Linked DNA regions of Homo sapiens. The protein of the gene in region 1 interacts with the protein of each later gene in a biochemical or structural test. Each region holds a gene or a part of one and is shown on either strand. Other genes may lie near its edges.

What was found. Proteins that work in one complex are often made in the same cells at the same time.
Region 2: the proteins of RET (region 1) and TLN1 interact in a surface display test, tested with the Homo sapiens proteins (2 studies listed by BioGRID and IntAct, with this or other methods).

Annotation. Positions count from the first base shown.
Region 1 is NC_000010.11:43,080,064-43,087,089, forward strand, and holds part of RET (proto-oncogene tyrosine-protein kinase receptor Ret isoform a precursor), read left to right. Parts: intron 1-7,026. UniProt on the Homo sapiens protein: Receptor tyrosine-protein kinase involved in numerous cellular mechanisms including cell proliferation, neuronal navigation, cell migration, and cell differentiation in response to glia cell line-derived growth family factors (GDNF, NRTN, ARTN, PSPN and GDF15).
Region 2 is NC_000009.12:35,708,176-35,715,201, forward strand, and holds part of TLN1 (talin-1), read right to left. Parts: intron 7,013-7,026; coding exon 6,884-7,012; intron 6,702-6,883; coding exon 6,585-6,701; intron 6,513-6,584; coding exon 6,399-6,512; intron 6,199-6,398; coding exon 6,064-6,198; intron 5,907-6,063; coding exon 5,778-5,906; intron 5,124-5,777; coding exon 5,021-5,123; intron 4,869-5,020; coding exon 4,660-4,868; intron 3,950-4,659; coding exon 3,830-3,949; intron 3,618-3,829; coding exon 3,420-3,617; intron 3,220-3,419; coding exon 3,080-3,219; intron 2,908-3,079; coding exon 2,814-2,907; intron 2,712-2,813; coding exon 2,622-2,711; intron 2,567-2,621; exon of another isoform or gene 2,509-2,566; coding exon 2,386-2,508; intron 310-2,385; coding exon 166-309; intron 1-165. UniProt on the Homo sapiens protein: High molecular weight cytoskeletal protein concentrated at regions of cell-matrix and cell-cell contacts. Involved in connections of major cytoskeletal structures to the plasma membrane.

The sequences.
Region 1 (7,026 bases):
CTTTCTTCTGCAGAATCACTTTAGGGACAGGCTGAGGAAATCACTGTTTCCTTGGTGGTGTGAAGAAAATGGGATGCGATCACCTAGCGGGGAGCTAATAGCCTTTTAGCCAGTGGAGGAGAAAACCAATTAAAAATTATGATATCTGTTAAAATGGAACCTGGGGTGCCAAGGGGAAGGGAAGGCCCGGAAGCTGCCATCTCCCCTGAGACCTTCCCCCTCTGCAGCCTGGCCGAAGACCCTCTAGGTCCCCTCGTCTTAACTGGATAAGGCTAATACCAGCAGTAGCACCCCATGGGGGCTCACAGTGCACTGCCCCTGTGCTGTGCCTACTCACTTCATCTTTTCCAACAAGTCTGCAAGGGTCATGGTCTTGGCCCATTTCACAGGTGAGGAAACAGGTTCTCATAGCCTATGGACTCGAACCGGTAGAGAGGATGCGGGAGCTCCCCAGCCCTGGCCCTCTGGCTTGCTCCAGCCCGTTCTCTGGGCCAGTGGTGTGGGTCCAGGGTGGGGCTAAGGAGGGCTTCCAGGGAGGTTGCCCTGAGCCTGCCCACCCACTGGTGAGTCCCCCCACCTCGGGCTCCAGGTGCCCTCAGGACATCCCAGCCCAGATCCCAGAGTAATGTGTGGCACCATGCACAGACGCTGAGATACTCTCTGGGTCTCGTCAGCTTTAGTTGATGTCTGGGAGTCCTATGGGTCTGGGGAGGAGCACCAGGCATGGCTGTGCCAGCAGAAGGGCCGACTGTGTGTGCTCTGTGGATGGCAGGAAGGCATCTTGCTGCCAGTGGCGGTGCAGATGTTCGGCTGGGACACCAGGCTGTGGCCCTTGCAGCCAACATATGCCTGAGGCCCTGGCATCGGATGGAAGCTACTGCTCTGAAGACAAGGGTGCAGGGATGGGGTTTGGGCATCAGGGATGGGGGTACAGCTGTGTTTCCTCATGCAGGACAGGGCCTTCCTCCTCATTTTTCCCATCCTCCAGGACAGCCTGGGAGAAGAAAGCCAGGGAATAGGGGCAAAGCAGGGTGCAGCCCCCCATGCTCCCTGCTGCCCTCCTCCCCTCCTGCAGAGGCACTTCCTTTCCACTTCAGGAGCCCCTCCCCCAGAAGTGGGCCCCCCCCATCCCCCCTTCCTTCTTTGGAGGCTGCTTCCTGGTGCCAGGTTATGCTCCCTCCCCGTTCTCTGCTGTGCCCTCTATCTCCCCACTCCTCTGCAATTATTTTTCAGCAGAGTGACTTAATAGTAACAATAACAGTAACAATAATAGTAACAACAGCAGGCTGGGAGCACTCCTGAGGGAGCCTCGGCTCCTGCCCTGCTGCTCTAGGGCTGGGGACTCTCCAGAGCTGTCTCATGGCAGGGAGAGACCGTAGTCAAGGAGACCCTGTGTAGGGACTTCCGCATGCGTGTGTGGCAAGGGGCGGGGACTGGGCAGTGACCACCAGGCAGGGAGCACACCTCAGTCATGGTCACAGAGAAGGTGATGATGGCACCAGGGCTGTCTCTCCGTGCCCGTCTGCACCTGGGCCTGCCAGAGCCGTCTTCTGTGCCCCATGGGGTAGGGGAGCACCCCATGGCCCCTGGGAGGCTGCCAGTCAGTGGGACTATGAGGTCAAATGGGGAGGTCCCTTGGGGTCCATGACCCAGGCACTGCACCCCTTGGGGCTGGAAGGGGAGAAGGCCCCAGGCCCACCAGAGCCCCTCTGGCTCCCCCACTAGAACAGCAGCCAGGGCCGGCTCAGGGATTGAGGCGAAGCCTTGGTGCTTGATTCTTTGTCCCCTGAGGCAGGCTGTACCTCTCATAGGAGAACTTTGGAGGACGGGCCTTCTCCTGACCAAGGCTCTGGGACACTTGGCAGCCCCTGAGGTCCTGCTTTACCTCTCTGCTTTCTCCCCCCTTCTCTGAGCTCTGGGGCCAGGCCTGGGCACTTGGATTGGCGCTGAGACAATGAGGCCTGAACCTCCATGGAGCTCTGGTCCCGCAGCTGTGTGATCATGGGGGCCTCAGGGACCCCGCTCCCCTCCATTCCCCAAGCCTAGAGGCCATGAAGCCTGTGGGTCCCTGAACTGTCCACCCTGAGACTGCAGGCAGGGCAGGGCTGGGCAAGAGCAGGCAGCAAGCTGTCCTTGTTCCCACAGCTCCTCCTGGCTGGGCTCTTGGCCCCTGAAAAGCCTGGGGCAGGGAGATGGTGCCAGCAGGACCTTAAGGACAGCAGTTCAGGTCGCACCTGGCCCTGGAGGGAGCAGGTGGCCAGCTCCAAGCAAACACCTCTGTTTGCTTTTGCCTCAAGGAGTGGCTCCACAAAGTGTAGCAGCCCAGGCACCACCACAGAAAGGTCACCGCTGCACCTGGACAGGTGTGCGCCTACCTGGTGGACCAGCGGGCATAGGCTTTCCTCCCTGATATCAGGGATACCTGGAGGGCCTGGTGCTGGGGCTCTGTGCTCAGGGGAGAACCTGTGGCCCTACAGCCCCAGGTTCTAGACCCCCTCCCAGATTCGGGTGCTGCAGCTGCGCTTCCACTCCTGGCCCTTGCTCCTCTGTGCTGCTGCTCTCCATGCCCTGCAGGAGCCAGGGTTCCAAGGAAGCACCTGAGGGGCAGTGTGGCCCCAGGGCAGGAGCAGGACAGTGGCCACCAAGCTGTTTCCAGTTCCCTTGTGTGCCTGTGACTCCAGAGGATTCTCGCCCTTGTGTTCCTGAGAGGGAAAAAGGAAACATGTATTTCCTAGAATTTAAGTAATGACTGGGGAGATGTGTGCTCTGGGTGCCGGGACGAGGGTGGGTGAGCTGGAGGTGCAGCATGAGCTGGTGCAGTTCTGGAGGGAGGGAGAGGGCTCATTGGGTTTCTTCCTCATACTACTTGGCAGTGCAACTGGCACAGACCCGGCAGCTGTTGCTGGGCTAGGGGCCAGGGGCTTCCTCTTGCTCTGTTCCCCTTCCTGCTCCACCACCATTGCCTGTAGGGCGTCTGCCAGCCCCAGGAAGCCTAACACTTAGCCCAAGTGGGGCTCTGGGCCTGGCCCTCCTCACCCAGGGAAACAACGGGGCTCATGGGCGCTTGGTGACATGGGCACATTGCTCTGCCATCGTAAGGGGCCAGCCTGGCTATGGGACCCAGCACCGGTGGGCAGCCCACAGGTTGTCTCTGCAGGAGACTCCTCTGGCAGGTCACATACAGGATGCCCCACAGCACCTTGAAAACTCGTGACCCGGGAAAGCCTCAAATTGTCTTTGCTCCCCTAGCCTCCCCACCACCTGTATATGCAGGGGCATGTGAGACTGTACTTGGTGACAGGAATGCCCCCCAGTCTCAGGGGCTTAACGCCATCTACTATGTCCTTCTTGTGGCATAGCCTGGCATGGCCCTTACCCACTGGGTGGCCACACCTCCCAGCCCTTGTGCCTGGCTATGTGCACAGGAGGGCACAGAGCTTCAAGAAGCCTGAGGCTTAAGGAGCTTTGAGGCCTGGGAGGGGGCCACCGTCACTTTCCCTGTGTTCCGTGGGATCCTGTCACATGGTCGTTCTCACCCCAGGAGGCTTCAAGTACAGAGGACGCGGGGATGGGGGCACGCAGGGGTGTACCTGCACACACTTCTGCCTACCAGCTCTCCATCCCTTGTCCTGGTCCACATAGCAGGGGCTCCTGGCGGGCCCAGCAGCTGAGGGGGACAGAGGGGGAAACAGGGTAGCAAATAATTATGGTTTACTCTTTTTTAATTGTGAAATTTGTGTAACATAAGTTTAACCATTTATAAGTGAACCATTTGGTGGCATTTAGCACATTTACAGCATTGAACAGGCATTGCCTTAGTTCCAAAAAATTTGCATCACCCCAAAAGGAAACCCCATACCCATTAAACAGCTGCTTCCTGTCCCCGGGCAACCCCCAGCCTGCGTTCTGTCTCTGCGGCTTGGCCTGTCCTGGAACATTTCATCTGCATGGACTGTTGTCTGGCTTCACTCAGCATAAGGTCTTCAGGGTTCCTCTAGGCTGTGGCACACATCAGCCCCTTCCTGTGAGGGGTAAATAGTGTGCCGTCACCCATTCATCTGGGGATGGACACGTGGGTGCTTTCCACCTTTTGGCAGTTATGAAAAATGCTGCCAGGGACATTCCTGTTATAAATACCTGAGTTCGTGCTTTCAGTTCTTTTGGGTACATACCTGGACATGAAATCGCTAGGTAATTCTGTTTTATATTTTGTGGAGCCGCCAAACTGTTTTCCACAGTGGTTGAATTGTGTTACATTCCCAAGGGTTACAATCTATCCACATTCTCACCACCACGCATTATTCTCTGTTATTCTCTGGTTCATGTCTCACTCTGGCCGTGCAGCCAGTGCACAGTGCTAGCTCGTTGTGGCTTTGGTTTGCCTTTCCCCGGTGATGGCGTGCTGGGCATCTTTTCCTGTGCATGCTGGCCAGTTGCATGTCTCTTTGGAGAAGCATCTCTTCGAGCCCTCTGCCTGTTGTCTAACTAGATGGCTGTCTTGCCATACAGCTGACTTTGCTGTTGCATCTGCATCAAGAGCTGCAGAGAAGCAGCTTTATCCAGGGCCGTCACTGTCAGTGATTGAGCCCCAGGTCCCTTGTGAGGAGAGTGTGGATTCGTCTGATTCCTCACATGGGCATTGAATCACCACTGCCCTCGAGGACCTTGAGGACATTCTCGGAAGACCTGGACTCTGAGGCCACGTTGAGCACCAACATCTGGAAACCATGGTGTCACTGCTTGTGCATAAGAAGGGGCCTCTCAGGAACCGCCCTGTGAAGGATGGAGGAAGGGGAAGGTGCAAGGAGCCAGCAGACCCCCACCCCACTGACAAGACGAGACTCAGCAGCAGGGGAACCAGGGCCGCCCTCTCTCGCTCATCCTGAACCCTGACTCTAAAAATAACCAGGCTGATAATCGGATCCGCTGTAAGTTGATTATCATCATTGCCGTGGTGTGATGTCATGCTGCCAGGCCCTGGGGCAGTTTTCTCAGGACAGCGGTGGATGCACCTAGGCAGCTCTGGAGGCCAGCATGGAGCTGGGGGGCCCTGAACCGAGGGTGGCAGGCAGCCTCTGTGGGCTCCTGCAAATCTGCTTGGTGGGGGTGGAACACTGGCATCCATAGGCAGGCACTCTGTGCTCCCAAGGAGGAGTTCCTGTCCCCATTCGCAGCTAGGGACAGAGCCAGGGAAGCCAAGTGCCCAGCCCTGGCAAACAGCGGGGAAGCACAGGGGCATGGGCTGGGCCGCTCTGCCCTGCGTTTCTGCTCCTTCCTGCTGCTGAACTCTCTCCTTTCTGCTGCTGAACTCTCTCCTTTGGACTAGGCCTTTGTCTTCTTGCCTCATCGTCAGTGGCCTGGGAGGACACTTGCAGTCTTAATCCTGTTTTGGCCCCATGTCCCTCACCCCCCAGGGGCCACCTAGGCCAGAGCCTGTCCTGATTTCCATCTCGGCCACCGTCTGCCCCTCGGCCCCTGGTCAGGAGCTCATTCTGTGGATACTCCTGCATAGACATCACGTGGACTCAAAGGGCATGAGGACCTCGGCTGAGAGGAGCTTACACATCAGTGCAAACCTCTCATTTTACACAGGGAGAAATCGAGGCCCTGAGGGAGGCGTGAGTTGTCACACATGGGGGTAGTGTCAGATGAAGACTTGGCACCACTTCCCTGGGCATCCCCTTCCCTGCATGGCATCCCCAGCCTTGGGTTTGGATTCTTCTTCACCCTTGATGTTGAGGTCTTTGCTCCCAGGACCTGGATAACAGCATCCAGATGCAGGTGGTGCCCCCGCATCGGGCTGCCTGGCTGTGACCTGGGGCATCAGGATTGTCAGCTTGTCTGGCCCCAGGTCTGTGCTGGGCTGAAACCTACTGTCTCAGAGGCTCCTGGCTCTCTCCCTCTGCTCTCCACTGCTCTTAAGAGCAGACCCTCAAGCCTTTTTTGTGTCCTCTCTCCAGGGAGAGCCCAGCTTCTACTCTGCAGCCCAATGCAGAAGGGGTGGTAGCTCACGGTGCCTCGGCTTCTCTGCATGCCTGTCACTGAACAGAGAAGCCCAGGCCAGACTGCAGCTTAATTCCTAGCCTCTGTGTGGCCTCCAGCAGGGTACCTAAGCTAGTGCTGCCTCATTTTCCTCCTGTGTGAGATGGGAATCCTCATGGTCCCTACCTCTGACAGTTGTTTTGATGCAGTGGGTGATGCAGATGAAGCGCCCGGAGCAGACCTGCTCATGAGGAGCACACCGTGGATTCCTACTGGTTAATGTTGAACAGGGATGAGAAGGGGCTGGGGTAGGGCGAAAATGGGCAAGACCATCTCAGCTTGAGGAACATGAGCTGACAGATTGACTTAAATTTGCACATGGACATGATCTGAGTCACTGCCTTGCTGAGTGCATGGGGACAGTTGCCCAGGCCAGAGGCACCAGGGTCAAAGCCAGTGGTGATGCCCTGGCCCCGTTGCCCCAGGCCAGGGCCAGTGAACAATGTAATCAGCTGGGGCAGACTCTACAGCCCTGCAGCCAAGGGGGCCAGTGACCCTTACATGGTCATCCACAGGCCACTTGGGTGGCCAGTCCTGTTCAGCCAGGCCTTGCCCTAGGAAAGAAATTAATTATAACCTAATTGGCAGTTTCCTTTGCATAGAAGCCGGAAGCAACTGCCAGTGAGGCTGGTGATTAACTCTGCAGCAGCTGGGAAATTGCAGTTGGGCAGGAGCGCCCATCATCCTGGCCAGGCCGCTGCAGCTGGTCTGGGTATGGAAGTGTGGGTGGTGGCCATCGTGCAGCTTAGGGCCTGGGCCCCTCAGAGCAGAAGGCTGGGTCTGTGTGCAGAAGGTAGCCTTGGGCTGCCAGGTCCCCCAGTGCCCAGTTGCGGACCTCCTTCTCCCAAACCTCAGCCATGCCTGGACCCCTTCCCCACTCACGGCAGAAGGCTGCATGGCTTTTAGGGGTGTCAGGAGGCTCATGTCCTGGTTGCAGTTCTACCATGGGTGTGCAGCGGGAATTCTGGGCTTCTGTTTTCTGGC
Region 2 (7,026 bases), on another chromosome or scaffold:
GATGAGACCCATGGCAGAAAAAGACAGTTACCCAAAAAGAAGCTGTGTGTGCAAGGTCAGAGATGGGTCCCTGCCCTCTTTCCCACATGCCTCACCTCCCTCTACTCCACGGGGTCGGTCTGCCCTTTCCCAGACTCGCCTGTGGTCCCTGTTCCCTTGAGTTACCTGGGCCTGGGTACAGCCAGGCTCTCCCAAACTCTGGCAGGCCATCTGAATTGCCTGGTTTGCACGGGCAAACTGTGTGGGCTCCACTAGCCCTTGCTGTCCAGCTTGGCTATTGGGGTCAGAGACACCAACCAGATATGCAGCCTGGGAAGAGAAAAGGGGGTGGGGGTGAGGAATAAAGATTGCAGGTGGGAAATGAATAGTGATAGTAGGGACAAAAGAGAGCAGAGGTAAGTTTAGAGAATAGGGCTTATTTTCCAGAGTTCTCCATGAGTGGAGATACATTAGCAAACAATGGTTACACTATAAAGAAGAAAAAAAATACTCTCCTGTTTTCATTAAGTATATTCAAGCATTTCAGAAGATTAAAAAAGTTAATAAAAAGGAAAACTACATAGCAAGGGTTTTTATCCAATCTCTATTTAGATATGTTTGTGTATGTTGGGTCTTAGAGTGAAAAGTATGGCTTACTGTAAGTAGCAGTAAAACGTTTGAGAGCCATATATAAATACACACCTTTGTGCACACAAGCAAAGCCTCTTTTAAAGACAGTTCAAAACTGATGAAGGTTATTAGGCTAATTCACATTTATAGCACCTCCATGCGTCAGATATTTGGAAAGGAAGGGAGGGGTTAAAAAGCCATTTTTATGATGGAAAGAACATCCTAATGTTTGATTCATACTTCAATCAATACACAGTAGCTTTGCTTTTTCCTCTATGCATTTTCAGAAGGTGGGGGGAAAAAAACCAAACAAACAACAAAGAGGTTTAGTGAAACCCTGTCTCTACTAAAAATACAAAAATCAGACGGGTGTGGTGGCAGGCGCCTGTAGTCCCAGCTACTCGGGAGGCTGAGGTAGGAGAATCACTTGAACCCGGGAGGCGGAGGTTGCAGTGAGCCGAGATTATGCCTCTGCACTCCAGCCTGGCGACAGAGCGAGACTCCGTCTCAAAAAACAAACAAACAAAAAACCAAAAAAACAAAAAAACAAAATCAAACAAGCCATCTAGAGCAAGGCGCCTATTCTGACAGGGCACAGGGAGGTGGTGGAGATGGAGGGCTAGGATGGTAGGCTTTCAGGGAAAATAGTCTGAAGTGAACTCTTATGATGCCAGTTTGTTTTAAGGATTCATATACTAAAGCAAAATACTTTACAGCTAATAGGTAGTTTTATACTTGATAATGTGGGAAAAGGCAAAGTTAAGTGATAACTCAAGTAACTGGAAATTTTGTCACTAGTACTATTTTAAGAAAGTAGTGATTGGCCGGGCGCGGTGGCTCACGCCTGTAATCCCAGCACTTTGGGAGGTCGAGACGGGCGGATCACGAGGTCAGGAGATCGAGACCATCCTGGCTAACACGGTGAAACCCCGTCTCTACTAAAAATACAAAAATTAGCCGGGCATGGTGGCGCGCGCCTGTAGTCCCAGCTACACGGGAGGCTGAGGCAGGAGAATGGCGTGAACCCGGGAGGCGGAGCTTGCAGTGAGTCTAGATCGCGCCACTGCACTCCAGCCTGGGCGACAGAGCGAAACTCGGTCTCAAAAAAAAAAAAAAAAAAAAAAAAAAAAGAAAGTAGTGATTACAGGCCAGGCGCGGTGGCTCACGCCTGTAATTCCAGCACTTTGGGAGGCCGAGGCAGGTGGATCACGAGTCAGGATATCGAGACCATCCTGGCTAACATGGTGAAACCCTGTCTTTACTAAAAAAAAAAAAAAAAATACAAAAAATTAGCCGGGTGTGGTGGTGAGCGCCTGTAGTCCCAGCTACTTGGAAGGCTGAGGCAGGAGACTAGCGTGAACCCGGGAGGCGGAGCTTGCAGTGAGCCTAGATCACGCCATTGCACTTCAGCCTGGGCGACAGAGCGAAACGCTGTCTCAAAAAAAAAAAAAAAAAAAAAGAAAGTAGTAATAACATGAAAAAATAGTTTGTATAAGCTAATTAGTATATTTTGAGAAAGCCAGCTGGAAAAGGCCTCACGGTTGGGCAGTGTAATCCTAACCAAAGTACCAGGGTTCAGGAATTACAGAAATCAGAACTGCTGGTGTTCAGTAATTGCTGACAAGTGTCTCCACTTCAGGAGGAGGACAACCCAGATTCCATAGAGTTGGCTTTGCAAACATAAACTTCTTGATTTATCTACAGGTATGTCAGGCTGAGAGAAAATGGGGTAAAGAAAGTAGGGGCCATTCAAAGAACCCATCTCAGGAAAATAACCTGTGCAGCTGCCTCGGTGAAGCCACAAAGTGCCTTTGAGGCTGTGGAAATGGCATCTCCAAACTCTGGCAGGTTTCCGTTCTTGGCATTTTGGGAGATGCCAGTCATGGCCTCGCCCAGCACCTGAGGAACAGAGGACATCAGGGGAGTCAGAGCATGTCCTCAGAACCCCAGGGCAGCATCTGGTTAGCTCCATCCTACTGCCCTCTCTCCTCCGAGTTCCTGGCTGTGCTGACCTTTGAGTTCTCCATTACACTGTCCAGGCAACCAAAGTAGGACATGTCATTGATGGGCTGGACTGGGTTCTCCAGGAGTTCCCGGACCGTCTGTGTAGGGGGAGGGCAAAGTGAGATCCAAGACACCTCCCTCAGGCCCAAAACCAGAACACTTCCCTCAACCTCAATGCCATCAGCCTGCCATGTGTCTACCTCCAATTCCCGCAGGGCGTTATCACACTCCTTCTGGCCGGGTGCCTGCTGGGTGCACATAGTGATGAGCTGATTGATGCTGTCAGTTACTGCCCTGGGAGTGACAGAAAGTTGAGTGAAAAGGTGAATAGGTCATCATTCCTGGGTCCTATGTAAGTATTTATCTTTTGCCTATAACCATTCCTAAGCCAAGAAGCTCTCATGAACTGCCTGCTCCCCAGTCTCTCTCACACAGTCCAGGGCTGGGCTTCTCAGCAACTACTTACCTGGCAGCTGCAGCCAGCTGACTCTTGAGGTTAGGGGCAGCAGGGTCCGTGGACAGGGCCTTGGCAGCCAGAAGAAGTTTGCTTGAAGACATGGAGATGCCCTTCAAGTTGGACACAACTTGGGCTCGGTCCTCCTGGCTCTGTTGAAGGTGACAAGGTCAATGCATTGTCCTGTCCTTTCTTATCTGTCTCTAAAAGGGATCTTCTTTCCCAGACACTCAAGTAGTGCTAGAGACTGGGGAGGGAAGGGAGCCAGGAGCAAGTCAGGACTGGTCACTCAACTGCCTCCTATCTAACCCTTAGTGGGAACCATTCAACCAGACCCTCTGCCTCTTCATACCGGAGCCTGGCCTGCCATCTCCACACCAGCTTCCAGGAAGGTGCTGAAGTCCTGTCCAAATCGGCCTGAGGCTCGAGCCAGGTCCTGAGGGGTTCCCCGAGAGGCCTGCACCAGTTCTGTGGCTGCCTGATTCAGCCCAGCAGCAGCTTCATTCAACCGGCTCTGAGCTTCTTGAAATGTCCCAGTGCTAGGAGGAAGCTGCAAGGTGAGAGGGGAAGTCAGACAGAAGAGTGGGGAATGATGCAGGGAGAAGTCTGGTAAAGGAGGGCTGAAAAGGTGGGCACATAGCCTGGGAGTAATGAAAGGGGACAGATCTGGGAAGTCAGGGTCAAAGGACAACCGAGAGGGAGGAAGGAGAGGCCTGGCATTCTTTGACTCCTACGTTCCCCCACCCCCTACCGTCCTCCTACCGAGTCACTCAGGAGTCGCTTGCTGGCATCTCCAACTGCCCTCAGGGCATTATCCACATCGCGCTGGCCAGGTAGGCAGCTGACACAGCGGTTCAGAGCCTGGGTCACTGCTTTAGCCACCTGGGGTGAGAAAGGAGACAGGGTTGCCCAAGTGAAAAGAATTTGAGAGATCGCCTCCATTCACGCGACATGGGAGATGACTAGCTCTACTGCCTCTGAAAGTGAAAAAAGAAAGGGGGCGTTGTAGGTGAACAGGCTGAGGTTAGGGTTTCAAGTGACAGTAATTAAACTTCCCCAAACTTGGTGTTTAGCTCAGCCCATGACTGAATCCAACTGAGACACTTCTACAAGACCAAGAGGGCCGGGCACAGTGGCTCACGCCTGTAATCCCAGCACTATGGGAGGCCGAGGGGGGCAGATCACGAGGTCAAGAGATCGAGACCATCCTGGCCAACATGGTGAAGCCCTGTCTCTACTAAAACAAAATTCAAAAATTAGCTGGGTGTGGTGGCGCATGCCTGTAGTCCCAGCTACTAGGGAGTCTGAGGCAGGAGAATCACTTGAACCCAGGAGGCGGAGACTGCACTGAGCCGAAATTGCGCCATTGCACTCCAGCCTGGGCAGTAAGAGCAAAACTCTGTCTCAAAAAAAAAAAAAAAAAAAAGACTAAGAGAACATAAGGGTGGAATCCACAGAGGGGCTGTCAAGAGCAGACCCAAGAAGACATCACTCTGTGAGTGTGGACGAGGCTCAGAAGCTTTGGCCTCAATCAGGGTGGGCCTTATGAAGGAACCTGGGGGAGAGGGAGTGGCCCTTTCCCAGTATCTGACCTGGGCAAGCCGCTGCTGGCTCTCAGGGTCCCCTGGATGGCCAGCTGCCTTTTTCGCCTCCTCAATGAGGCTGCTGGCCTTGTCCAGCACATCACTGGCCGTATCAAGTACAATGGCCTGCACTGCAGGATCTGACGTCAGTGCAGCGACTCCCCTAGCGGCCTGGGCCAGTGACCGCAGCCCACCTGCCACATCCCGAGCTGCAATACCTTGGGAGATGAGGAGAAAGAGGGAAGGGAAGGTGCTTTCATTGCCAGGCCCTGATTCCAGTGGTTTCGTCTGTCAGTCCCATCCCTCATCCAGCTCCCATTTTCCTACCTCCCTCACAATATGCCCCATGCCTGGCTCTCTGCCCACATACCTGCATAATTCTCATTGCCCTGGGCAACCTCTCCCAGTAGCTGGGCGATGGCTGAGCTCACGGCTTTGGTGCTGTTGCCCAGGTCCTGGGTACACTTCTCCATCTAAGGATGAAGGGGGAAGAATTGGGCTTGAGAAAGGAGAAGGTGAGGAGAAGGAACCTGAGAAGGTACTTGGGGACAGGTGGCAATTTAAATAAATGTTTTGGGCTGGGTGCGATGGCTCCCACCTATAATCCTAGCACGTTGGGAGGCTGAGGCAGGTGGATCACCTGAGGTCAGGAGTTCAAGACCAGCCTGGGCAACATGGCGAAACCCCATCTCTACTAAAAATACAAAAATTAGCCAGGCGTGGTGGTGCATGCCTGTAATCCCAGCTACTCAGGAGGCTGAGGCAGGAGAATGGCTTGAACCCAGGAGGCAGAGGTTGCAGTGAGCTGAGATTGCACAACTGCACTACAGTTTAGGTGACAGAGCGAGACTCCATCAAGAAAGAAAAAGAAATAAAAGAACGGAAAAGAAAAGAAAAGAGAAAAGAAAAGAAAGAGGAGAGGAAAGGAAGAAAAGAAAGGAAGGAAGAAAGAAGGAAGGAGAGAGAAAGAGAAAGAAAAAAGGAAGGAAGAAGAAAGAAAAGAAAAATAAAAGAGAGAAAGAGAAAAAAGAAAAAGGAAGGAAGGAAAGGTTTTGAGCAGCTCTGGGGCACGGAGGTGAAGGAAGACTTTAGGATTTGAGTAAGAATGAGGTCTTAAACATACTTACTGTCTCCCCAGGTAAGGGTTTAAGCTTGCCATCTCGAGCTGCTGCCTTCACTTCCTGTAGATCTTTCTCTAGATTCTGTACCACACTCAGTGCAGAATCCATCTCCAAAGGTCCACATGCTTCCTGAGCCTATGATAAGAAAGGGGTTTTGGGTGTAGAAGGTCCTGCTGTGTCTCACCAATGCCTCTGATTACACAATTATCTGCGTATTGGGTTATTCTGCACAGATTTCCTCTCATCACAGGACTCCAGCCTCATCTTCCAAAGCCAGAACCAGCTTCCATACCTTCTGGGCAGCCGTCCGGAGTTCAGCCAGCGCGGTGCCCAGGTTCTTGGCACACTGACTCAGCTGCATGGCTGAAGCCTGGTCCTGAATCGTTGGCACTGAGGCCTTTGCAGCTGCCACCATCTTCCCACCTGGCTGTTGGGGAATAGGCAGGTGGATGAAGTGTGCCATCCTCCCTCTGGGCTTGGGTACAAGGACTGATGATGGTCAGGATGTAGGGAACACTGGGGCTTGGTATTGGGAAAGAGGCTCTTGGCAGAGATTCAAACTGTGGGAGATGGAAGCTTAGAAAGGTGGGAAGGTCAGGTCAGAGAAGTGCAGAGGGGGTGCCTTGCCTGCAGGAAGCTCTGGCTGGCAGCAATGAGGGCAAGCTGAGCGCTGGGGCTGTCAGGCTGGGCTTGGCTTCCTCGGACGCCCTGCACCAGCAGTGGAATCTGCTCTGCCACTGCCTGTAGGTGAAAATGTCATAAGAGACCCACAAGTCTCCCTCTTCCACTCCCACATCCTTCCTAGAGTCTTACCTTGCAGCTCTGCACCAGCAGGGGCTGGGGGCCGGCAGAGGCCTTGGGGGTAGAGGCTGCGTGCTGAGCTGCAGCGATGGTCTGTGTGGCTGAGGCTGCAGCCTGCTTGGCTGCATGCTGTGAAGACAAGAGTAGTCAGACCAAGCCCATGGATTCCCATGCCCAGCCCAGTCCCTGGCCTACCTTGCCCAGGTTATGCCTCAAGGACGTATTAACTTACTCTCCGCACCTCCCTTTCAGTTCATTCCTCCCACAGCACCCACACTCTCTCTTGCTCCTGGTGAAACTCCCAGCCTCACCTCCAGGCGCTGCACCAGCTTTTTCTTGATGGCATTCTGCGCAGCTGCATTGGTGGCCATGCGCAGCCCCTCAGCTGCCTCCCGCAGCCGCTGCTGCTGCTCCTCACTGTCAGGGTGGGCAGCTGCTCCCTGAGGGAGAGGTG